7 linked regions of the Homo sapiens genome follow. The protein of the gene in region 2 purifies or fractionates together with the protein of the main gene of each other region. This does not show direct contact. Each region holds a gene or a part of one and is shown on either strand. Other genes may lie near its edges. The genes, in order: ATP8B2, RXFP1, NOTCH3, SLC12A4, ST7, PIGQ and ABHD6.

Region 1 (3,500 bases), on a different chromosome or scaffold from region 2:
CCTCTCCCAATTCAGCTTTGTGTCCCAGGACGTCAAACACATCACCTACATACAGCCAGGGCAGAAAAAGAAGCAATGTCAGAGCCAGAGAGCTCCAGAGCATGGAAAAACATCTCCAATGCAGAATCCCCGTAGGCACTGAGCCCCTCAACCCTAATCGCTGAGCAGCTGTCACAGTGTGAGTCACTCAGTCACATTGCTGACTCGCGGGATAGGAGGCATCAGGCACCCTAGATTCCAGAACCCCAAGGCCTGGCCATGAAAGAGCCCCGGCACCCACTGCTCACCATCCCTGTCTCTACCCTAGGCGGCACCCCCCTCAGGGCAGCTCCAATTCCACACCTCCCAGGCCTCCTTGCACCCATTAGACCTGAGCAGCAGACAAGGCTCAGACACTGACCGAAAGGCATCAGTCAGTACAGAAAGCAGTCACAAGAGGGGTCCACACTCTGCATAAAAGTCAGCCCCACATGCTGCCCCAGGCCATCCCAGCAGCACAGCCACGGGCCACACTGGGAAGTCCAACCACAGCCACATTCCACAGACTCACAAGGACCCTGAGCAGCAACAGGGGAGAGTCTAGCAGGGTTCCGCCTGGCCAGGATGCCCAGAGGCCAGTGTCTCACTTCAAACAGCCAAGGAGCTCCCCTAATTCCTGGAGCTGAGACCAGGGTCAGGGCATCAGGAGAGGACAAGGGGAGGACTCTCAGAATCTAATTTTTTTTTTTTTTTTGATAGACTTTCACTCTTGTCGCCCAGGCTGGAGTACAATGGCGCAAACTCGGCTCACTGTAACCTCCACCTCCTGGATTCAAGCAATTCTCCTGCCTCAGCCCCCCGAGTAGCTGGGAAAACAGGCACCTGCCACCACGCCCAGCTATTTTTTGTATTTTTAGTAGAGACGGAGTTTCACCATGTTGGCCAAGCTGGTCTCGAACACTTGACCTCAGGTGATCCACTGCGCCCAGCCAGGATCTGCTTCTTGACATGGGACACAGAATGGACCTCTTCTTTGTGTGTGGATTTTTCTCGAGAGACAGGGCCTCATTCTGTCGCCCAGGCTGGAGTGCAGTGGAAGATCATGGCTCACTGCAGCCTTGACCTCCCAGGCTCAAGTGATCCTCCCATCTCAGCCTCCTGAGTCACTGGCCAGCTGAGACCACAGGTGCATGCCACCATACCTGGCTAATTTTTAAATTTTTTGTAGGGATGTGGTCTCACTATGTTGCCCAGGCTGGTCTCGCATTCCTGGGCTCGAGCAATCCTCCCACCTCAGCCTCCCAAAGTGCTATGACTATAGGCATGAGCCACCGTGCCTGGCCAGGATGGACCCTTTCTTCTAGGCCCCTCAGACCCAACTAGGAAGGAAGAAAAAACCAATGTTAAGGAAACTGTGGGGCCCCAGTTCCACTGTCCTTCCAGGCGAGGTGCAAGCCCCCAGTCCCCAGTGGTGCCACCATACCATAGCTGTGGCCATTGATGGAGCACTTGTTGAAAACCATGATGTTCTGGGTGAGGGTGCCCGTCTTGTCGGAGAAGATGTACTCCACCTGGCCCAGCTCCTCGTTTAGGGTGGTGGTGCGGGCTTCTGCAGGCGTCCGCTTCTTCATGCAGAACATCTTCTTATCCCAGTTGATGAAGTAGCTGTGGCCCAGACGGATGACCTCCACACTGCACAGGGGACAAGAGGTGAGGCTTGGGTCGGGAAGAAGAGGAGGTGCCCCACCCACATGGGCCTTCGCTGCAGGCCCTCCGCCTGGGGAGAGACAAGAACGGAGAAGACACCTGGGCACAGAAACCTGGGTGGGAAAGGGCAAGGAGAGCCTGAAGGTGGAGCCGGCTGCACACAGCCAGCAGAGGAACGCCCCGACCCGACCCTCCTGATGCTCTCCAGACAAGAAGGTGCAAAGGGCCTGGGTGGGCAGGACAGACAGCAAAGGAGGAAAAGGGGCTGTAGACAAGGCACTCGGCCAGTTCTTACCTCAGGACTAATAATACAGAAACCATGCAGAGAAAAACAAGAGAAAGTGCCAGAGGGAGGGGAGAGAAAAGAGAGAGAGAAATAATGAGGGTGCTGTGCATGCCACAGCAACACAGACGCCACCTCAAAGAGGGGTGGCACCGGGGAGGGGAAATGGAGAAGGCTTGAAGCCCACTCGTCACTGTCCCACCACAGGCTGGGTGCGCTCCTTCCACCCTGGGCTTGGGGCACTACATTCCTGATTCTGAACACCGGGCAGGGCTGAGGTGCTGACTCCAGAGGGAGAGGGCCCTGGGCATCTGCAGAACACCACCACTTCACAATGGCACAGCGCATTGTGGTGGTTGTTGTTTGCTTGTTTGTTTTTTGAGCTAGGGTCTCTGTCACCCAAGCTGGAGTGCAGTAGTGTAATCATAGCTCACTGTAGCCTCAAACTCCTGGGCTCAAGCAATCCTCCCACCTCAGCCTCCCTAGTAGCTGGGACTACAGGTGCACACCACCACACCTGGCTAATTTTCATTTTTTGTAGAGATGGGATCTCGCTGTGTTGCCCACACTGGTCTTGAATTCCTGAACTCAAGAGATCCTCCCGCCTCCACCGCCCAAAGTGCTGGGATTACAGGCGACAGCCACCATGCCTGGCCCCTATAGTGCCTTTAACATCTCCAGGTCTGTTCGTATCCTCTTCTTTGCTAATCATATGCACTGTTAGCATTTCCAGAAAGGGCCATGTTTAGGTCCAGTGCAGCCGAGCAATGGGGCCCTATCGAGAGCCCTGCTTCCCACCTGACTAAGGCACCTATCAGGATCCCATTACCAGGCAAATGGGAATGTCTTCACATTCCAAAGGGCCTTTTCCTCACACAGCTCTTCAACCCCCTCTTAGCCTCCCGAAACATACACACTGTGACCTGATGAGACTCAGAAAGAAAACTGCTTTAGCTGCTCCCAAGGGCTTCAAGTGAACTGAGATACAAAACACAGATAGCAAAGCCCATAGGTGGGAAAACAAAATTAGGTTGTAAGCACAAAGGCATTTAAATAGTAATGCAGAAGGGAGTGGCAACAGTCACAATGAGCAGGCTACCACCCAGTAACTGTACAGTCACTTAAGTTTAAAATGTATCTTCTAAGCCAATATCTTATATCAAGACATCCTATTAAAAGGTGAGACAAGTACTCCTGTTCCTGTTTCACGTGGGAAAACTAAGATCAAGTGAGGCCCTGAGTGACCGTGGATTTTCCTGAGGTCACATGGCCAGTGAGGAGGCAGGACTAAACCCAGAACCTCCCAACTCTCCTCTTCACACCCTGGAAAAGCCTAAACTATATTCTCTCAGCACAGAAATGCTGTATCTTCTATTTATTATCACCAGCAGTAAGATTGGGGGCTGGGAGAGAGTTGAGGGCTATTTGGGGAATCTGTATGAACAAAAGATGGGAGACAGGACAAGTTTTCAGCACCTCCATAAAACATTTCCTTAAAAATGTCACAGGTTCCCTTATCTCAAGTGCAAGG
Region 2 (3,500 bases):
GAAAAAGTGCCTCATTTTAAAACCAAGCTACTTTGAATTAGCAAATTTAAATGTTGTATTATTTTATGTAGGAGTCATGAGCTCTGAATTTTAGTCATAGAAATATAAAATATAATTTTTACACATATGAGGTTTCTGGTCTGTAAACATGAAAATGTTTACACTATATATCGTACCTGGATTTGGTATGCTTAATGTTAATGATGGCATAAGATTTAAAGTGTGTGTGTGTAGTAGTAGTTTATAACATTTCCTTCCACCCTCAAACTTCATGTCAGAGAATGCTGGCATTACCTTTGTCAACATTCCCTGAAGCCCTCCACAACCCTGTGCTTTCTGAGGAAAAAAAGGACAAAAACCGAAGGGTGGATTCTCCTGAAAAAATTAGAATAGAAGTAAATTTTGTGTTCAAGATGACCCTGTGCAGTAGGGGAATATGTGTGTCAGGAGAGGATCAGGAGTGAGGGGCTGAGTGATTGGAGGAAACAGAGGGGCAGAGAGTGAGGCCAAGGGCCTTGGATCAAAGAGAGAGAAACAGTGAAGAGTCAAAGGCAGACCAGGTGCAGTGGCTCAATCCCAGTACTTCAGGAGGCTGAGGTAGGCAGATGGCTTGAGCCCAGGCGTTTAGGACCAGCCTGGGCAATGTAGTGTGTTCTCCTCTCTATAAATTTTTTTTTAAATAGGTAGGCATGGTGGCATGCACTTGGAGTCCCAGCAACTCGCGAGGCTTAGTTGGGAGGATTGCTTGAGCCAGGGGGCAGAGTTTGCAGTGAGCCAAGATTGCATCACTGCACTCAAGCCTGGGCCAGGAGAGCAAGACCCTGTCTCAAAAAAGACTCAAAGCCTCTAGGGGATTGAAGAACAGAAGAGGGCGTGGAGCTTTCAAATTGAACCTGCTAACGTTTACTAGCATAGAAACTTTGAAAAAAGGTGCCCAAGAGCCAGATGCGCTACAAAAAGCTTTGTACAGATTTTTTCCATTAAAATGGATTTGATAGACAAATGACTTGCCACATTATTTTGGATCACCACTGAAGACGAATGCTCAGTGGTTGAGAAAATATCAACAAAGAAAAACAATCCCTCTTTCCTTTCCAGGGAACTTAAACTGTTGTGCTGCAAGTTCACAGGATCAGGGGTAACGACTGCAATTAGAAGGGCAGAAATAAAAATCTAAATTTGACTTTGCTAAACTGGCCACCTCTCTTGATCTTAACACAAAAAAGGGAGGTTAAATGGAGGTTAAGAAGCTAACAGAAAGCATGACTGATGATGTCACTCTGTCTAAGTTTGAAATGTGTGAGAAAGTAGAAACATTTATAAACCATGAGGCAGTTCTGCAATTTCCAGCAAATCAGCCACAACTGAGAAAGTAAAAACGGCAAATCTTCTGGACCATTGAAAATGAATCAAACATTTCTAGCCTGCTCTGGGAAAAAACCATTAAAATATCAAAAGGCTAGGGTGAGCAACAGAGGGTGAGAGAAGAGGATAAAAAGAATCTGAGGTTTTATGAGTGAAGGTAATGGTAGAGTGGATTGTGCTGTATCTCAGAAGCCAATGCGTGATGCACCTGAGAAGAGTTATTTTCATTAACTTACACTTGCAATATGTGCCTGGATAAAAGCTTCCAAAAAAGCTTCCTAGGGCAGCTTATCTGATTTCTTTCACTAGGTCCAGGCACACACGCATATAAATTTTGTTCAAAATTTGTCATTTCCTATCTATTTGCATGTTCTATTTTATAATGTTTTAATTTAAACTCTGTAAAGTAAAATTTATCTGTTTAAATGGCTGCAACTACAGGAAACTGCAGGGTCATAACTTGCTTGTATTATGAGGATCAGGTGTTGGAACTAATTTACACAACACTGAAAAAAATCGGCCAAAAATGTCCATGAACCCAGGTAACTGCAAAATGAGGGAGGGGTGTAATCTGCAAGTAGTATGTTTAACAGGCAGCTGTTCTCTATGAAAGTCCTAATTAATGAGGAGGAAGTATTTATTAGGGAAATGAAATGAGTAGAAATCAGAATTAGGGTTGCAAGATTTGGGACCAAGACAGGAGAGTTTCTCTTTGTGGGTATTTTGTCAGAAGGTGTGGTGAGACTAAGGAATACAGAGAATCATTAAGATAGGAAGGAGAAATTAAGCGCTAAGGGAGAAAGAGGAACTGCTTAATTAGAACTGGAAGCCAGTATCTAGGTTGCTTAGCCAGGAAAGGGAAAGCTGCAGGGAGTCCATTTGGCACTAAATAGACAATCTGGGAAAGAAGCAAAGGAGGACAAACCCAAGCATGTAGCAGGATCAAAACTTGAAGGAGTTTGGGAGCAGTGGCTCACACCTGTAATCCCAGAGATTTGAGAGGCTGAGGTGGGCGGATGGCTTGAGCCCAGGAGTTCGAGACCAGTCTGGGCAACATGGTGAAACTCCCATCTCTACAAAAAATACAAAAATTAGCCGGGCGTGGTGGCATGCACCTGTGGTACCAGCTACTCAGGAGGCTGAGGTGGGAGGATCACTTGAGTCCAGGAGGTTGAGGCTGCAGTGAGCTGTGATCACACCACTGCACTCCAGCCTGGGCCACAGAGCAAAACCCTGTCTCATAAACAACAACAACAACAACAACAACAACAAAAAACAAGCAAGCAAAAAAAGAGATCAGACTTTCATGATAGCAGAGTTTATGACCAGTGTGGGATTTATGTTTTACCATATCAGGAATGAATATCTTGGGGTCGTTTAACATAACAGTGAGGATGCTCTGTGTTGCTCTGTGAGTGTCCTTTCAATCCCCACAAAGGTGAGGATTGAAACATGTTACTCTATCTCAGGAAACTGTGTGTGCTGGGGTGGGGAGAGGGAAGAAAACAGTAAGGTTAGGGATATTCGACTCCCTACGACCAGGGCCTCCACTGTCCGCCCTCTCTGGCACCTGCATAGGCAGAAAGACAGAACAGATGGCATTCTTTTTTGGTGGGAAAGAAGAGGTTATAGGAGCGGTGAAGCACACAGGTATTTGGTGCCTACATTATCTGGGGCACCCAGAAAAAAGAGAGGATTTCTCTGGACACTAGAAGTGTCTGAGAGATTCTGATAGTCTATAAATTACTCCTGAGAAGTTGGCAAAGTTTCTTCTGCTGTAGCAATGCTGTCTCATTTTTCAACCTGTGGCACATGAAGCCTCTCTCACCTTAGAGGGGTGACCCCAAGGGCCAGATTCATGATTTGCATGGCATGTGATGAAAAGGGCTGCATCTTTAGAGATGACTCTATTGTCTGGGGAATAGGATAGGAGCATGGACTGGAGAGGAGATATTAATAGTGAAGACATCCACTTGGTGTTGACTTACTCTGAGCTTTTTTTTTCTTTTTCTGACACAGGGTCTTGCTCTGTTGCCTAGGCTGGAGTGCAGTGCACCATCTTGGCTCACTGCAATCTCTGCCTCCCAGGCTCAAGCGATCCTCCCACCTCAGCTTCCCGAGTAGCTGGAACTACA
Region 3 (3,500 bases), on a different chromosome or scaffold from region 2:
TTCCACTCCACCCCACTACAAGCTCCAGAATTTGTCCCTAGCCAAGACTCTCCCACAGTTAAATCCCGCCCCCAGCTGTGGCCCCACCTCCAGCCCTGTTTCTGCCCCACCCTCCACTGGAGATGGGAGCACATGGCAGGTGCCAGGGGAAGGTATTGGGCCCTCCCCATTCAGTTACAGGCACCCTGTGCCCAGCCCAACACTTTGGCTCCACACGTAGCCTTATGTCAGTCTATATGCATTATTGGCTCCACCCCCCAACTCTGTCACTGGGTCCTGCCTTGCTACAACCCCGCCCCCAAGCTCTCCCCAAGTCTGTTATTGGCCCTGTCGCCCACAAGCCCCGCCTCCTGATTCTTGTCGGACTGTCATTGGCCCGCCTCACCCTCGGCACAGCGGCACTCGTAGCCATCGGGCTGGTCCACGCATTTGGCGCCATTCCTGCAGGGCGTGCTGGCGCATTCGTCCACGTCCAGCTGACACGTGGAGCCGCTGAAGCCTGGGGTGGGGAGTGGGATGAGCAGAGGCCCAGAAAGGGTGAGAGCAGTACACCCCTCTCCAGCCCCGCCTTGTTTGGGTGGAAAAACCCATTTACTTGGATTTAAATTAACTTCAATGTTTCATAACATATGGTTTCTATTGTAAGTTATCCGCTAACGTGGTTTTACAGGTTCCCACCCTGGAGTTTTTGCCCCTTCCCAGACATGTCTTTTCGGGCTCCCTCTCCTGAGGTCCTCACCCGAGGGGCAGGTGCAGCTGAAGCCATTGACTCGGTCCTTGCAGACCCCACCGTTGACACAGGGGCTACTCTGACACTCGTCAATGTCCACCTCGCAATAGGTTCCTGTGAAGCCTGGGGCAGGGAATAGGGCTTAGGAAAGCGGGGGCTACCCTATGGTGTGAACGGGGTGCAAGGAAGGAGGTACTTCCCTTCCTACTCATCGACAAATCCCCCGAGCCTTCGTCCCCACCTCTACACTCCCAGCCCAACCTTAATTTTCAGCCACAGGCTGGACTGTCACCCAGCCGTGGTCCCAACTGGCCCAAGGCTCATGGGTGTCCGCAGAGGCCTTGCCTTCAAACCCCTCCTCCTCTCCCCAGTCCTCAGACTAAGCCCTTTCCCCAGTCCCCAGCCCCCAGCCCCAGGGCCCCCCATAGCCTTTGCCCAGGCTTACTGCAAGCTTGTCTGCAGGCTTCACCTTGACCTCACAGCAGCCCCGACTCTGCCTCTCTATCCCCAACCCCTTCCCGAGTGGGTCCTAAGGCCAAGAATACTCCCAGCCCACCTGAGGTTCTACTGACTCCATTTGACCAAGCCCCCAGAATCACACAGTATTCCCTTCTGGTCCTGACCCCACCTCCTTCCAGGCTTCAGTCTCTAAGGGTCCCACTCCAAACCCACTTACACCCCATTCTGCTCAGCTCCCCATCCGCGGGCTTCTCTGTCCCCGCCCCCTGCCTCAGGACCCGCCCAGGCCACGCCCACCACCCACCTGCCATACAGATACAGGTGAACTGGCCTATGCGGTCGAGGCACGTGGCCTGGTTTCGGCAGGGCCCCGACAGACACTCGTTGACATCGGTCTCACAGCGAGGTCCAGTGTAGCCACGACCGCACTGGCACAGGAAGGAGCCCTGCGTGTTCACGCACCTGCCCAAGTGCTCGCAGGGGTTGGCGCCTGCCGGATGGAGTGCGATCGGTGTGGGCGTGGCTGGCCGGGACCCCCTCCTCTCCCCTCTTTCCCAGCCCATTCACAGACGATGGAGCTCCCCTCACCGATAGAGCACTCGTCCACATCCTGGTCACATGCCCCACCCGTGAAGCCGGGAGGACAGGTGCAAATGGCCCGGCCGTTCACCGGATTTGTGTCACAGATAGCATCCTCGTGGCAGGGGTTGCTGACACAGGCGTCATCCAGGTGACACAGGAGGCCTGGGAAGTGGTAAGCAGAAGTCATAGGCAGATCTTCCTGCTCTGCCCAAAAGGCCCACACCCCTTGAGTATTGTTTTGTCGTTGTTGTTGTTTTGTTTTGTTTTTTGAGACGAAGTTTCGCTCTTGTTGCCCAAGCTGGAGTACAATAGCGCGATCTTGGCTCACTGTAACCTCCACCTCCCAGGTTCAAGCGATTCTCCTGCTCAGCCTCCCGAGTAGCTGGGATTACAGGCATGTGCCACCACGCCCGGCTAATTTTTTGTATTTTTAGTAGAAACGGGGTTTCACCAAGTTAGCCAGGTTGGTCTCAAACTCCTGACCTCAGGTGATCTGCCTGCCTCAGCCTCCCAAAGTGCTGGGATTACAGGCGTGAGCCACCGCGCCCGGCCTGTTGTTTTTATTAAACCTAAACAGTATTTAGTAGCTGCTTTTTTAATCCATTTATTATGAGAACTATCAAACATACAGAAAAGTTGACCATTCATATACCCACCACCTAGATTCAACTATTGTTAGCTTAATCTACCAATCTTCTTTTCTAAACCATTTAAAAATAAATTGCAGACCGGGCACAGTGGCTCACGTCTATAATCCTAGCACTTTGGGAGGCCAAGGTGAGTGCATCGCTTGAGTTCAAGAGTTCAAGACCAGCCTGGGCAATATAGTGAGACCCGTCTCTACAAAAAATACAAAGCTTAGCCGGGCATGGTGGCGCACGCCTGTAATCCCAGCTACTTGGGGGACTGAGGTGGGAGGATCACTTGAGCCCAGGAAGTCGAGGCTGCAGTGAGCTGAGATCATGCCACTGTACTCCAGCCTGGGTGACAAAGTGAGACTCTGTCTCAAAAATAAAATAAAATAAATTGCAAACATCCACATATTGTTTTAAAACCTTTTGACTCTTCTGATTACAAAAGGGTCCTACACTCCAGCCTTTGCTTCTGTAATACCCTCTGCCATGTATGCCCTCTTTCTATATCCACGTTCCCCTCCTAAACATGTTCTCTGATCTTTGCCACTTCCAAAGGTAACTCCCAGGAGTTCCCCATTCCAATGGCTTCTGCCCTGAGCCATGCATCAGTGCAATGTCAGCCTCCTCCCAAGCCTCTCCCAGGCTTACACTTCCCCACTAAAGCTGCCTCCAGCATCATCTTTTTTTCTCTCTCTTTTTTGTTATACACGGTCTTACACTGTCTCCCAGGCTGGAACGCAGTGGCTCAGTCTCAGCTCACTGCAACCTCCACCTTCTGGGCTCAAGCCATCCTTCAACCTTAGCATCCAGAGTAGCTGGGACTACAGGCATGCGCTACCATGCCCAGCTAATTTTTTGTATTTTTGGTAGAGATAGGGTTTTGCCATGTTGCCCAGGCTGGTCTCAAACTGCTGAGCTCAAGCAATCTACCCGCCTGGGCCTCCCAATGTGTTGGGGTTACAGGCGTGAGCCACCACACCCAGCCTACCAAGTTTTTGTAGAGATGACAAAAACTCACTATGTTGTCCAGGCTGGTCTCAAAGTCCTGGGCCCAAGCGATCCTCCCATCTTGGCCTCCCAAAGTGCTGGGATTA
Region 4 (3,500 bases), on a different chromosome or scaffold from region 2:
TGCCTTTGTTAGTCTGACTCCTCCAGACCAGAGGAGGGACTGTCTCATCCAGCCTTTTGGCCCTAAGGCCCCGCACAGTGCCTGCCACCAGGTGAGTGTCCACGGCTCCCTGCCCTGAATCTGTGCTTCTATCAAAGTCTAACACCCTTAAAAGACTCAGAGAGTCATGACCAGGCCCCAGGGTGACAAGCACAGGGGGACAAGAGTCATCTCATGTTGCTGGTTGTATCTGCTGCTGAGACAATGTCTCTGGTGAAAATCTGGGAACAGGGATCAAGAAATTCTTTCAAAGAGTCAATCTTGGCTGGGCGTGGTGGCTCATGCCTGTAAGCCCAGCATTTTGGGAGGCTGGGGTGAGTGGATTGCTTGAGCTCAGGAGTTCCAGACCAGTCTGGGCAACATGGCGAGACCCCGTCTCTACTAAAAAAAGGAAATGATAAAAATATACATTTTTAAAAAAAGGCCGGGTGCAGTGGCCCACATCTGTAATCCCAGCATTTTGGGAGGCTGAGATGGGTGGACTGCCTGAGCTCAGGAGTTCGTGACCAGCCTGGGCAACACGATGAAACCCCGTCTCTACTAAAATACAAAATTAGCTAGGCGTGGCGGTGTGCACCTGTAGTCCCAGCTACTCAGGAGGCTGAGGCAGGAGAATCGTTTGAACCTGGGAGGCAGAGGGTGCAGTGAGCCGAGATCATGCCACTTCACTCTAGCCTGGCGACAGAGTGAGACTCCGTCTCAAAAAAAAAAAAATGTCAGCTGGGCACAGTGGCTCACGCCTGTAATCCCAGCACTTTGGGAGGCTGAGGCAGGCAGATGACTTGAGGTCAGGAGTTTGAGACCAGCCTAGCCAACATGGTGAAACCCCATCTCTACTAAAAATACAAAAATTAGCTGAGCATGGTGGTGCATGTCTGTAATCCCAGCTACTCGGGCGGCTGAGGCAGGAGAATCGCTTGAACCTGGGAGGTGGAGATTGCAGTGAGCTGAGATCGTGCCACTGCACTCCAGCCTGGGCGACACACTCCGTCTCAAAATAAATAAATAAATAAATAAACGAAAAGTCAATCTTTTTCATGCCGTAATCCACCTCCAGGACCCTCTCCTAAGGGAACTGCTGGGGCATGAACAAAGATTCATGTTCAAGGATGTTCATGACAACAATGTATACAATGGTGAAAAAGTGGAACCCACAGGCAGGAGAATAATCACATTAATTAGGTTATGGTGTACCATGGAGAATCCTGTTTTCAAAAAACCATTTTCGGCAGGGTGCAGTGGCTCACACCCGTAATCCCAGCACTTTGAGAGGCAGAGGTGGGTGGATCAGTTAAGGTCAAGAGTTCGAAACCATCCTGGCCAACATAGTGAAACCTCGTCTCTACTAAAAATACAAAAATGTGGTGGTCGCCTGTAATCCCAGCTACTCAGGAGGCTGAGGCATGAGAATCACTTAGAATTGCTTAAACCTGGGAAATGGAGGTTGCAGTGAGCTGAGATCATGCCACTGCACTCCAGCCTGGGTGACAGAGAGAGACTCTGTCTCAAAAAAAACCCAAAAAACCAAAATCAAAAAACTGTTTTCAACACTTGGGAAACATACACACACACATACACACGTAAACATATACACATAAATGCATATGTATATATACACACATATACTTTTGGGAAATACACACAAACACACACACACATATATATATATATATATACAATTTATGTAAATAGAGTGTGCGTGTGCAATACTTCATAAGACCCTAAGACTTATATATACCAAAAGGCGAACAGTAGTGATTTCAGGATGGTGGGATTATGGGTGCTTTTAATTTTCCATTCTATACCTTTCTGCACTTTTTTATTATTTATTTATTTATTTTGGAGATGGAGTCTTGCTCTGTCACCCAAGCTGGAGTGCAGTGGCATGATCTTGGCTCACTACTGCAACCTCTGCCTCCTGGGTTCAAGCTATTCTCTGCCTCAGCCTCCCAAGTAGCTGGAATTACAAGTGCCCACCACCATGCCTGGCTAATTTTTTTTTTTTTTTTTTGCGACGGAGTCTCGCTCTGTCGCCCAGGCTGGAGTGCAGTGGTGCAATCTCGGCTCACCGCAAGCTCTGCCTGCCAGGTTCACGCCATTCTCCTGCCTCAGCCTCCCGAGTAGCTGGGACTACAGGCGCCCGCCACCACGCCCGGCTAATTTTTTGTATTTCTAGTAGAGATGGGGTTTCACCGTGTTGGCCAGGATGGTCTCGATCTCCTGCCCTTGTGATCCACCCACCTCGGCCTCCCAAAGTGCTGGGATTACAGGCATGAGCCACCGCGCCTGGCCTTTTTTTGCACTTTCAAACCCTCTTACAGTAAACATACATTGCCCTTTTTTTTTCTTTTTTGGTATTGCTTTTATATTAACAAAAACCACAATGGCACTCTCCAACTCTGTCAAGCAGGAAAGCTCCTACGTGGGCACTGTCCTGGCATCAGGGATTGGGAGCCCACTACAGAACTGCTTGGGGCAGGGGTGTGCTATGGGGGTTCCCAGGTAGGTCAAGGCAGATACTGGGTCCTTTTCTCTTCCACCAGGCCTTGGGTGGCGCTCACTGACCTGGAACCACACCGTTGGTGGCGATGGCACTCATGGAGATGGCCGTCAGCAGGGTCTGTGGGAAGGAGGGCCTGGGTGAGCGGCTCAGCTGGGTGGGCTCTGTGGGGGCAGCCGTGGCCCATGCCCAGCCCAACCCTCCCACGCCAGGACACTCACACAACAGCAGCAGATAAGCACGATGAGGAGGGCCTGTAGCACACCTGCTGTGCCCACCATCCAGGTCAGCCGCAGGAAGAGGATAACCCCAAAGATATTCTGCAGGCAGGGCAGGTACACCCCCATGAGGGTGCCCATGCTGGGTGCCTATGCGAACACAAAGGGAGGGGGCGAGTAGAGCATCAGAGGGATGCACCATGGAGAGTCAGCCCTAGTCACTCAGCAGGCCCCCTCCCCCAGTGGGGCCCCAGGGAACACAGAGAGTAGGGGTGACAGCTAGGATGTCTCTATTGACTTTCATATAGGAAGACAGTTGAGTCTGGGAAGGTGTAAAACCTGATTCTTTTTAAAAACCCACATTGAACTTTGGAACCTTAACTCTCTCTCAAGGTACTGCCTCCTTCCCTTCCTCTCTTCTGTTAAACTTCTAGAAAGAGAGGTTTGTCTCAGATCTCCACCTTCTCACCCAGCAGGCCCTAAGTCACCCAAGCCAAAGTCCCAGAAGTCATCCCTGGCCCTCCCTCTCAACCCCCAACTCTAGTCCCGGTAGACACTAACTCCTACCCAGTCTGTCTCCCTGCTGCCCTGAGATCAGCCTGCCTTGTCCCAGCCTTAGTCCCTTGAACCTGGGGCACCTGGGTGGTACCCTCCTGAGCCTGTCAACCTCTCCACACTCCAGCCCACTCTGCTGCTATAGTAGGTCTCTGAAAGCAAGTCTAATCTCATCACCCATGCTGAAA
Region 5 (3,500 bases), on a different chromosome or scaffold from region 2:
GCAATTAAACAGTGATACCACAGCCACAGCAACATAAAATACTGCTACAGCTAACTAACTGGGCCTGTCAGTTCCTTATTTTAGCACAGTAGGTAGTATAGGAATGCCTGCTAGTTTTAAATGATGGGTAATGGTAACACATCAGCAACTGTCTTGCCCCACTGTAACAAGAAAAATGAGTTTCATTACAAGTTCTCTCTTCTGGAAAATCCAAAGCCCTTTACAGATATCTTTACAACAACATCTCAAATACAATAATGATGTTGAGAGATATTATTCCACATTTACAACAAACAGACAGTAGTGTGGTTTCAAACAATCCAATAACCCATTATCTTGCTTGGTGCAGTTTTAGAAAGAATATCGAGGATAAAAAAGATTCTATTATATAGTTTAATGTGTCATTTCACTGTGAGAGCCAAGCCTATAGAATATAGAATATAGCCTTCTGAGGAAAAGACCTACTATAATGCCTCAGATTTAAATAGTATTTTACAGCCTACAAAGCACTTATTCATTTTACAGTCTCATATGAAGATTGCATTCTAGTCAAGGGACCAAGTCTATCATCAAGCTGTAAGGCCAAAGTCAGTAACTATCTCAACCACACAAATATTCATAGAATGCCCAGACATCCAAATAGGAAGAGAGAAAGTCAACTACCCCTGTTTGCAGACGACATGATCCTATATCTAGAAAACCCCAGAGTCACATAATTAAAGAGCTTCTGCACAGCAAAAGAAACTATCATCAGAGTGAACAGGCAACCTACAGAATGGGAGAAAATGTTTGCAATCTACCCATCTGCCCAAGTCTAATATCCAGAATCTACAAGGAACTTAAACAAATTTACAAGAAAAAATCAAACAGCCCCATTAAAAAGTAGGCAAAGGATATGAACAGACACTTCTCAAAAGAAGACATTTATGTGGCCAACAAACATAGAAAAAAGCTCACCATCACTGATCATTACAGAAATGCAAATCAAAACCACAATGAGATACCATCTCACACCAGTCAGAATGGTGATTATTAAAACGTCAGGAAACCATAGATGCTGGTGAGGCTGTGAAGAAACAGGAACGCCTTTACACTGTTGGTGGGATGTAAATTAGTTCAACCTTTGTGGAAGACAGTGTGGCGATTCCTCAAGGATCTAGAACTAGAAATAATACCATTTAACCAAGCAATCCCATTACTAGGTATATACCCAAAGAATATAAGTCATCCTACTATAAAGACACATGTACACATATGTTTATTGCAGCACCATGTACAATAGCAAAGACATGGAACCAACCCAAATGCCCATCAATGATAGACTGGATAAAGAAAATGTGGTACACGTACACCATGGAATACTATACAGTCATAAAAAAGGAATGAGATCATCTCCTTTGCAGGGACATGGATGAAGCTGTAAGCCACCATCCTCAGCAAACTAACACAGGAACAGAAAACCAAACACTGCATGTTCTCACTCATAAGTCAGAGTTGAACAATGAGAACACATGGACACAGGGAGAGGAACACCACACACCAGGGCCAGTCAGGGGGTGGGGGGGTGAGGGGAGGGAGAACATTAGAAGAAATAGCTAATGCATGCAGGGGTTAAAACCTAGATGACGGGTTGATAGGTGCAGCAAACCACCATGGCACACGTATACCTACATAACAAACCTACACATTCTGCACTTGTATCCCAGAACTTAAAGTAAAATTAAAAAAAAAAAAGAAAGAAAACCCCATAGTCTCAGCCCAAAAGCTCCTTAAGCTAATAAACAACTTTAGCAAAGTCTCAGGATATAAAATCAATGTGCAAAAATCACTAACATTCCTATACACCAACAACAGTCAGGCCAAGAGCCAAACCAGGAATGCAGACCTATTCACAATTGCCCCCCACCACACACACACACACACACACACACACACACACACACACGTAGGAATACAGCTAACCATGGAGGTGAAGGATCACTACACGAAGAACTATAAAACACTGCTCAAAGAGATCAGAGATGACACAAGCAAATGGAAAAACATCCCATGCTCACGGATAGGAAGAATCAATATCATTAAAATGCCCATACTGCCCAAAGCAATTTACAATTTCAATGATATTCCTATTAAACTACCACTGACATTCATCACAGAATTAGAAAAAACTGTTTCAAAATTCATATGGAACCAAAAAATAGCCCAAATAGCCAAAGCAATCCTAAGCAAAAGAACAAAGCTGGAGGCATCATGCTACTCGCTACTCATCTTCAAACTACACTACAGGGCTACAGTAACCAAAACAGCATGATACTGGTACAAAAACAGACACATAGACCAATGGAACAGAACAGAGAACCCAGAAATAATGCTGCACACCTACAACTATCTGATCTTCGACAAATCTGACAAAACAAGCAATGGGAGAAGGATTGCCTATTCAATAAATGGTGCTGGGATATCTGGCTAGCCATATGCAAAAGATTGAAAGTGGACCCCTTCTTTACACCATATACAACTGAAGATGGATTAGAGACTTAAATGTAAAACCAAAAACTATAAAAACCCTGCAACACAACCTACATAATACCATTCAGGACACAGGAATGGGCAAAGATTTCATGATGAAGACACCAAAAGCAACTACAATAAAAGCAAAAATTGACAAATAAAATCTAAACTAAAGAGCCTCTGCACAGCAACAGAAACTATCAACAGAGTCAACAGAAAACCTACAGAATGGAGACAATTTTTGGAAACTTTGCATCTGACAAAGATCTAATATCCAGCATCAATAAGGAACTTAAACAAATGTACAAGTTAAGTACCTCATATTATCTGTATGAATGGAGTTCAGGGTTCTACCAATGTGGAAAAAAATTGTCTGTGAGCAATGACACAGTAGTACAAGAAAGATTTGGTTGGGAAATTTTTCAGAATAATATTGGCAGGCAAAATGAAACTTAACAGAATTGTAACTCGAAGTGATTAGAAATACTTCAGCACAATTTTATGTGTCTGCAGTGGCTCACGCCTAGAATTCCAGCACTCTGGGAGGCCGAGGGGGACAGATCACTAGAGGCCTGAAGTTTGAGACCAGTCTGGACAAGATGGCGAACTCTGTCTCTACTAAAAATACAAAACTTAGCCGGACATGATGGCATGCACCTGTAATCCCAGCTACTTGGGAGGGTGAGGCATGAGAATCACCTGAACCCAGGAGGCAGAGGTTGCAGTCAGCTGAGATCCCGTCCCTGCACTCCAGCCTGGGCAACAGAGCGAGACTCTGTCTTAAAAACAAAAAAACAAAACAAAAAAAAAAGAATCCCAGCGTATTTGGAGGGTGGTGATCTAGAAAAAGAGAGGTGGAAGTTCAGATTTGAGGGGTAAGAAAGAGCCATAGCATCAAACTTTGTAAATGAAGGTAATACACTTAGATTGTATTTTCAATGCAATGGAAGCCACTGCAGGAAGTCATACAAAATCTGGACTTGTATTCA
Region 6 (3,500 bases), on a different chromosome or scaffold from region 2:
AGGAAAGGGGGGTGTACCTGCGAGGCCTGCCCTGCCCAGGCCCCAGCGCCCCTGGAGTTCCTGCTTCTGGTTCAGGGGAGGGCCGTGTCTCCAGAGCATGGAGAAGGTAGAACTGGCTTTGTGGGGCGGTGGCTCTGGCCCGGGAAGGCTCTGCTGCCCAGGAGGGGTCCCCACGCCCACCCGGGACACCGGGCTCCACCCCAGTCCACTCACGTCAGCCACAGGAACGAGGGCGTCGGCCAGATGCCCGATGCGGCTTCTCCCGTGGAGCCAGGACAGCAGCATGAGGCCCAGGGCCACGTCCAGCAGCACAGAGGCCACCGTGTTGGCCTTCCTGGAAGGGAGGTCCGGCCCGGCCGGCATGAGGGTGGCCAGCACAGCCTGGGGCCGCAGGAGGAGGCCTGCCTGGCCGGAGGGGTCAGCGTGGTGCAGAGGGGGATGGAGAAGGGGCCAGAGGGCACGCACCCAGCCCTGCAGAGACCAGGGCAGGCCCACACCTCATCAGCTGGGCAGGGTTCTCCGCCTTCCGTGTACTGAAGATTAGCGTGAGGTGCTCCAGCCGGTGCCGGAGCTGTTCGCACGTGGAGAGTTTGCTCCCGAGGAAGGACAGGGGCCAGAGCTTGAACACTCTGCGTGGGAGTGGAGAGGAGTGATGTGTCCCTCTCCAGATCCTCCTCCCACCGTCCCCCACTGTGCAGGGGACCACAAACACCCAGGCCACACTCCTGAGCTCAGCAGGACAGGGGGCAGGTGGGAGGGGCCCTCGGTGGCCCAGGTGGTGGTAGGCAGCGCTCAACGCGCCCACCTCACAGTGCACGTGACTAACACGGAGCCTGGCCTCCTCGCAGGTGCTGACCCCGGGCCACCTGGTCACCACATGCTCCCAGAGCCGGTGCCAAGAAGCGCCTGCCAGCCAGCAGCAACTCCCACGGGCCCAGGGCCTCGCCCCGCCGACAGGGCCCAGAAAGCTGCCCGGGGTCTCCTGGGCTGGCCTAGCTTCTCACCCCAGGCTTCCAGAGTATGCACCCCCGGGTCTAAGGCAGGGGGCAACTGCAGGTGACCCCTAGCTGCTCCCCATGGGGCACCTCCGCCAGGCAGATGAGGTCCCCTGTGGAAGGGGGCCCTCTGTTCTCAGCCACAGCTCGGGGCTACCCCCGTGCCCCTCAGGGCCCTTGGGCTTCAACTGACCCTTGGCCAGCAGCACCTGTGATTGTGGAGAGAAGCAGGGCCTGTAGACCACTCCCCCAGGCACACGGGGCCAGCAAGTGGATGACACCCCCACAGCCCATGAGCGCTGCAGTGTCCAGAGGCCTGCTGGGGGCACAGGCAGGGCTACAGGGAGGCCAGCGGGCCTGTGTGCCCTCAGGAGCACCCCCAGGCAGCAGTAGTCATGTCTGTGCTCACCTTCTGATTTCTCTTTCAGGGACCTAAGCCACTGAGGTTCACCCTCTACACCTTCTGGGAGGGCCCCTGGCAATCCCTGAGGCTGCCCAGAGACCTGGCTCTACCCCAGGGGTGAGGGACACCCTCTGAGAGGCGAGGGTTGGGAGAGCAGGATGGGGCCAAAGCCCGGGCTGCAGGAGTGGGAGGGGGCCCGGGCCCAGGAAGAGCGCATCTGGGCCTCTGTGCCCACTGCAGACAAAGGGATGGGCCAGCACTCATGGGACCCCACTCTTTGCCACCTGCCTGTCCCGGGACACCTACCGGCAGGCACTGACAGCTGAGACCAGCGACAGCAGGCTGGCCAACAGCAGGCAAATGGGTCCCGAGGCTCGCCTGGCCAGCTCCGCGAGGATGCTGGCCTCCACGCCCTCCGACTGCCAGTGGCTCAGCCGCACGGGGCCCTCATCAAAGCGGTCACTGCGGAAGAGCACCTCACTGCGTGCTACCGTGTCGAAGACGGCAGCCAGGCCCCCCGTGCTGGCAGTGGTGGCTCCAGCCTGGCGGTCGGGCAGGACGGTGGGCAGGTGTAGCTGTGACAGCAACACCTGGCGCTGGTCATAGAAGATGAGCATGACCTGGTCCTCACCAGGGGCACCGGGGGCAGTGGGCGCTTGCCGGTGGGTGGCCTCGCAGCTCCAGAACGTGCCGCCTCTCTCCCGGCACAGCCGCAGCCAGGGCTCATGGGGGAAGACAGCACCCAGGCTCTCCAGGAAGCGGCCCAGGCTCTCCTCGGGCTCCTGCCGGCAGTGGCACCAGGTGCCCAGCACGGCCACGCCCACCTGGCTGGCCTGCCGCACCTGGGCCAGGAGCTGCTTGACCTGGATGGGGATGAAGGGAAAGTGCAGGACCGCCAGGACCACGGCGCTGCTCTGCTCCGGCACCCACCGTCCCACCAGCAGCCCGCTGTCCGTCGAGACGCAGCACGTGGGGAAGAAGGCCTTGAGCACCATGCCGGGAGGCTGGAAGAGAAGAGGAGAGGCTCGGCTCAGAGCTGCTGCTGCCCCCCCACCGTGGGCTGCGGGATGTTGCACAGACGGCCTGACAGGTGCAGCCACAGGGCCCCAGGTCGGGGCACCTCAGCTTCAAGTTCGGTGGTGGACGCCGTAGGGCTCCTTGGCTGCCGCCTCGCGTGGGCCATGCTTCTCCAAGGGGCAGCCAGAGTGCTGGCCCCAAGTCCACCCCAGGCCCAGCTCAGCCCCACCCGCACGAGGCAGGACGCACATGCAGCCACCAGGCCTGCCCTCCCATTTCCAGGCCGGCCCAGGGCACGGCCTCCTCGGCACCACCTGACGCGGCTGTGGGGCCGAACCGAACTCCAGGCTTCTTAGTTTTAAGAAACCTGATTAGAGAGGTGTGCTTAAAGGTGTAGCACGAGGAGAACTGTACAATCTCATTAGCAAGGTCACGCCAATTGAAACCTTGACAAACCATGATTCACGTATTAAGCAAGAATAAAGATGAAAATGTAAAATGATGTGCTGCTGGGCTGTGGAAACTACCTCGTGCGCACGGCGGGCAGCCCCCCAGAAGGTCCCTGCCTCCCACAAGCCCCTCCCTGGGGGCAGGAAGGACCTGCCTCGTTGCTCAGGGCACACAGGGCTTCGGCCTCCACTCTGACCCCCGCCCACGGTGGCACCCGGCAGTGCCTGGCCCTCCCTGACATCCCCACAGCCACCCCAGGGCAGGGCTCCCTCAGGGAGCATTTTCTCTCCAGGATATATTTCTCCAACGACATGGGTGCCTAGAAACGGGGAGAGAGAGGCTTACAGGTCCCGGAGGTGTGGAGAAACTGCATCCTGCACTCTCAGGCTGAGGGACACCAGCCTTCCAAGGTGGCTGTTGAGTAGGAAGCCACCTGAGCTACCGCGGTTCCCAGGCCCTGGGCCTCTCCTCCCCCTTTCTCACAGGCCCCTGCGGAGCCATGCAGCCAGCTGGGGCTCCTTCTCCACTGATGCCTTCCCTGGCGGGGCCCCACAGGGCAGGAGGACTCCCTAGCGGTGGGGGCACTACTGGCCGGCTGGCTGGGCCGCTCGCCTTCCTCAGACACAGAAAGCCCC
Region 7 (3,500 bases), on a different chromosome or scaffold from region 2:
CATCCCTTCTCTTTATCAATTGTTGGCAGATCTCACATTGCCAGATCCTATTATTGCTTTGACACATCATCCAAGCAGTTCCTTAACATCACTGGCTTTGATTTCAAGAGATATTGCCTCTCTTAAGAGTTGCAATTTTACTTTCCATTGTTTATGTCATATTTGCAAAACATCTGACGACCAGGCAGAGACGCAGAGCCAAAATATGGATGCTCCTGGAGCCTGGCTGACCACCAGGGTTGAAAACAGAGGGATAGATGATGAAGTAGGACTTAACTTTGCACATGGCAAGTCCATTAATGAATATTTTCCTGTTATGAAAACTTCTGCTTCCCAGCCAGGCACAGTGGCTCACACCTGTAATCTCAGCACTTTGGGAGGCCAAGGCAGGTGGATCACTTGAGGTTTGAGACCAGCCTGGACAACATGGTGAAACCCTGTCTCTAACTAAAAACACAAAAAAATTAGGCAGGCGTGGTGGCACACACCTGTCGTCCCAGCTACAAAGGAGGCTGAGGCACAAGAATGCCTTGAACTCAGGAGGCAGAGGCTGCAGTGAGCCAAGTTCGTGCCACTGCGCTCCAGCCTGGGCAACAGAGTGAGACTCTGTCTCAAAAAAAAAAGAAAACTTCTGCTTCCCATCCACAATCTGGAAACTGCGGAGAATCAGATACTAGATACACTTAATAATCTGACTTTCTCATGACTATACCTGCACTGGCTTTCTGTTTTTTTCTCTATTTTCTCCACTCTCTACCTATAAGACGTCCTCTGTCTACCCCCAGTTCTCCTTTAAAAAATCTTTCTGGTGGAGCTAGAAGTTATCTCCTTCACTTAGACTTTCCTCAATCCCCCAGTAATCTCTATTTCATCCTCCATGCCCCACAGTATTTGGTATGAACACTTCTCTCTCAAGACACTTGAGATTTGTATCTCGTGATAAGAACACTGGCTGGGCGGGACTGTAAACTAGTTCAACCATTGTGGAAGACAGTGCAGTGATTCCTCAAGGATTGAGAACTAGAAATACTATTTGACCCAGCAATCTCATTACTGGGCATACACCCAAAGGATTATAAATAATGCTACTATAAAGACACATGAACACATATGTTTATTGCAGCACTATTCACAATAGCAAAGACTTGGAACCAACCCAAACGTCCATCAATGATAGACTGGATTAAGAAAATGTGGCACATATACACCATGGAATACTATGCAGCCATAAAAAAGGATGAGTTCATGTCCTTTGTAGGGACATGGATGAAGCTGGAAACCATCATTCTGAGCAAACTATTCCAAGGACAGAAAACCAAACACCGCACAGTCTCACTCATAGGTGGGAATTGAACAATGAAAACACTTGGACACAGGGTGGGGAACATTACACACCGGGGCCTGTCGTGGGGCAGGGGGATGGGGGAGGGATAGCATTAGGAGAAATACCTAACGTAAATGACGAGTTAACGGGTGCAGCAAACCAACATGGCACATGTATACATATGTAACAAACCTGCACGTTGTGCACATGTACCCTAGAACTTAAAGTATAATAATAATAATAACAATAAAAAGAACACTGGCTGGACCCTCCACTAGGCTGCAAGCTCCTCAAAAACAAGTCTGACCACATCTTTGCCTCTGTCACAGTACTTAGCATACACTGTGCCTTGCCCTTGGCAGACACTTGGTCAATGCCAAATGATAAGCTGGAAAGCTGAAACAAAACCAACTGCTGACTGAGAAGAAACCACTCCCTGCACCCATCACACAGCCTTAGGGGGAGAAGTCATGAATCAACAGGGCTGCCCCACCAGTGTCAATGCAGGCATTCCTTCACTCTGCTCATATGGCCACAAATGAAAGAAACATTCGTCAGAGCAGTATAGTTTTAGAGGTTTTAGTTTGGATGGGCAGCTGGGTCCTAGAGAAATTAAGCAAGCTGCTCAATGTCACACAGCTTTCTCTTCCTCTCTGCTAATTCACTGGTGGTTGGCAGTGGCTCTCAGCATGATGTTGAAGGCCACTTAGGATTTGGTGCTGCCCATCTCTCAAGGGTCATCTTCTTCTATCACCTGCCTATTGCCTGCCCTCCATCCCTTCCAATAATGATCTGCAACCCCCAGACATGCCGTGCTCTCCCACACCTCCGGGACTTTGACACACCTGCTCCTCTCTCCCCGGCACGCCTATTCTCCCTCTCGCCTGGCGAGCTCCAGCCCATCCTAAAAGTCTTAGCTATTAAAGCACTGCCGCTCTCTGTAAATGCTCCTGACAGTTCAGTTTTGCAGCTCAACAACCTGGGTTCAAATCTCTGCTCTGCCATTGACCACTGTGACTCTGCTCTGGTCACATGCTTGCCATGTGACTGTAGCAAGTGACCTAACCTCTTAGAATTCTACCTCAGTGTGGGGATGAAATGGGATGATGCAAGGAAACTGTTCAAAGCAGTGACAGGCAGATACTAAGCATTCACTCTGCACTGCTGGGATCTTGCCTGACTTCACAGGCAGAGTTAGGCAGCCCTGCCATACCTCCACCACCCTGCATGGCCACTGCTCAGGCCTATTGAGATGCCTGAGTAGTCTCTGGGCAGGGTCTGCATTGCCATCTTTATACTCTCAGAATCCAGTCCCATCCCCAGACTTCATCATATGTAACGTATGAATCCTTTTCTGGGTATATCACAAGGCAAACACCCAATGCCAACAGCCAAACAGCCACAGCTTCTGGAAAAATGCCTAAGAGCAAAGGCTGCTGTTAATATATTACTTAAAAAGAAGAGGATCCCAACCTGCAGCAGTGTAAGAACCTCTGCCCACACCTCCTGAGTGCTGTCCTGCTCCCCTGAATCAGCAGTTTCCTTGGTACAGCACCAGAGAGCCGCACAGAAGCTCATGACAGACCCCAAACCCATCCAGCCACAGGCAGCAACACCCCAAGTGGCCTCTAGGATTGGGAAGCGTCAAATAGGATCCAGAGGGTTTCTGAGGGTCCGGTTTAGGAGAATACTTTGATCTTCTTGGAAGAGGCAACTACATGCAAGGTCAGAAAGGACTTTAATGTTGTGAAAATCATATCCAGTTTCAGTTTCTCAACTGTGGCACAAGTGACACTGGAGGCCATATAATTCTTTGTTGTGGCACCGTCCTGTGCATCGTAGGACGTTTAGCAGCATCCCTGGCCTCTACCCACTTGATGTTACCTACAAGTTGTGACAACCAACAACAACAACAAAATTTCAAAATTATCCAGGTTTGGCCGGGCGCGGTGGCTCACATCTGCAATCCCAGCACTTTGGGAGGTAGAGGCGGGCAGATCACCTGAGGTCGGGAGTTCGAGACCAGCCTGACCAACATGGAGAAACCCCGTCTCTACTAAAAATACAAAATTAGCCAGGCGTGCTTGTGCATGCCTGTAATCCCAGCTACTCTGGAGGCTGAGGCAGGAGAATTGCTTGAACCCGGGAGGCGGAGGTTGCGGTGAGCCGAGATCGC

What was found.
Region 1: the proteins of RXFP1 (region 2) and ATP8B2 purify together in Homo sapiens (affinity purification with mass spectrometry; one large-scale study listed by BioGRID and IntAct). This does not show direct contact.
Region 3: the proteins of RXFP1 (region 2) and NOTCH3 purify together in Homo sapiens (affinity purification with mass spectrometry; one large-scale study listed by BioGRID and IntAct). This does not show direct contact.
Region 4: the proteins of RXFP1 (region 2) and SLC12A4 purify together in Homo sapiens (affinity purification with mass spectrometry; one large-scale study listed by BioGRID and IntAct). This does not show direct contact.
Region 5: the proteins of RXFP1 (region 2) and ST7 purify together in Homo sapiens (affinity purification with mass spectrometry; one large-scale study listed by BioGRID and IntAct). This does not show direct contact.
Region 6: the proteins of RXFP1 (region 2) and PIGQ purify together in Homo sapiens (affinity purification with mass spectrometry; one large-scale study listed by BioGRID and IntAct). This does not show direct contact.
Region 7: the proteins of RXFP1 (region 2) and ABHD6 purify together in Homo sapiens (affinity purification with mass spectrometry; one large-scale study listed by BioGRID and IntAct). This does not show direct contact.

The regions. Positions count from the first base shown.
Region 1 is NC_000001.11:154,339,025-154,342,524, reverse strand, and holds part of ATP8B2 (phospholipid-transporting ATPase ID), read right to left. Parts: intron 1,672-3,500; coding exon 1,463-1,671; intron 46-1,462; coding exon 2-45; intron 1-1. UniProt on the Homo sapiens protein: Catalytic component of P4-ATPase flippase complex, which catalyzes the hydrolysis of ATP coupled to the transport of phosphatidylcholine (PC) from the outer to the inner leaflet of the plasma membrane.
Region 2 is NC_000004.12:158,528,382-158,531,881, reverse strand, and holds part of RXFP1 (relaxin receptor 1 isoform 1 precursor), read right to left. Parts: intron 1-3,500. UniProt on the Homo sapiens protein: Receptor for relaxins. The activity of this receptor is mediated by G proteins leading to stimulation of adenylate cyclase and an increase of cAMP.
Region 3 is NC_000019.10:15,187,496-15,190,995, forward strand, and holds part of NOTCH3 (neurogenic locus notch homolog protein 3 precursor), read right to left. Parts: intron 1,934-3,500; coding exon 1,778-1,933; intron 1,680-1,777; coding exon 1,494-1,679; intron 854-1,493; coding exon 740-853; intron 500-739; coding exon 386-499; intron 1-385. UniProt on the Homo sapiens protein: Functions as a receptor for membrane-bound ligands Jagged1, Jagged2 and Delta1 to regulate cell-fate determination.
Region 4 is NC_000016.10:67,955,138-67,958,637, forward strand, and holds part of SLC12A4 (solute carrier family 12 member 4), read right to left. Parts: intron 2,908-3,500; coding exon 2,761-2,907; intron 2,660-2,760; coding exon 2,605-2,659; intron 1-2,604. UniProt on the Homo sapiens protein: Mediates electroneutral potassium-chloride cotransport when activated by cell swelling. May contribute to cell volume homeostasis in single cells. May be involved in the regulation of basolateral Cl(-) exit in NaCl absorbing epithelia.
Region 5 is NC_000007.14:116,960,001-116,963,500, reverse strand, and holds part of ST7 (suppressor of tumorigenicity 7 protein), read right to left. Parts: intron 1-3,500. UniProt on the Homo sapiens protein: May act as a tumor suppressor.
Region 6 is NC_000016.10:572,968-576,467, reverse strand, and holds part of PIGQ (phosphatidylinositol N-acetylglucosaminyltransferase subunit Q), read right to left. Parts: intron 2,403-3,500; 5' UTR 2,394-2,402; coding exon 1,705-2,393; intron 630-1,704; coding exon 498-629; intron 335-497; coding exon 214-334; intron 1-213. UniProt on the Homo sapiens protein: Part of the glycosylphosphatidylinositol-N-acetylglucosaminyltransferase (GPI-GnT) complex that catalyzes the transfer of N-acetylglucosamine from UDP-N-acetylglucosamine to phosphatidylinositol and participates in the first step of GPI biosynthesis.
Region 7 is NC_000003.12:58,240,792-58,244,291, reverse strand, and holds part of ABHD6 (monoacylglycerol lipase ABHD6), read right to left. Parts: intron 1-3,500. UniProt on the Homo sapiens protein: Lipase that preferentially hydrolysis medium-chain saturated monoacylglycerols including 2-arachidonoylglycerol. Through 2-arachidonoylglycerol degradation may regulate endocannabinoid signaling pathways.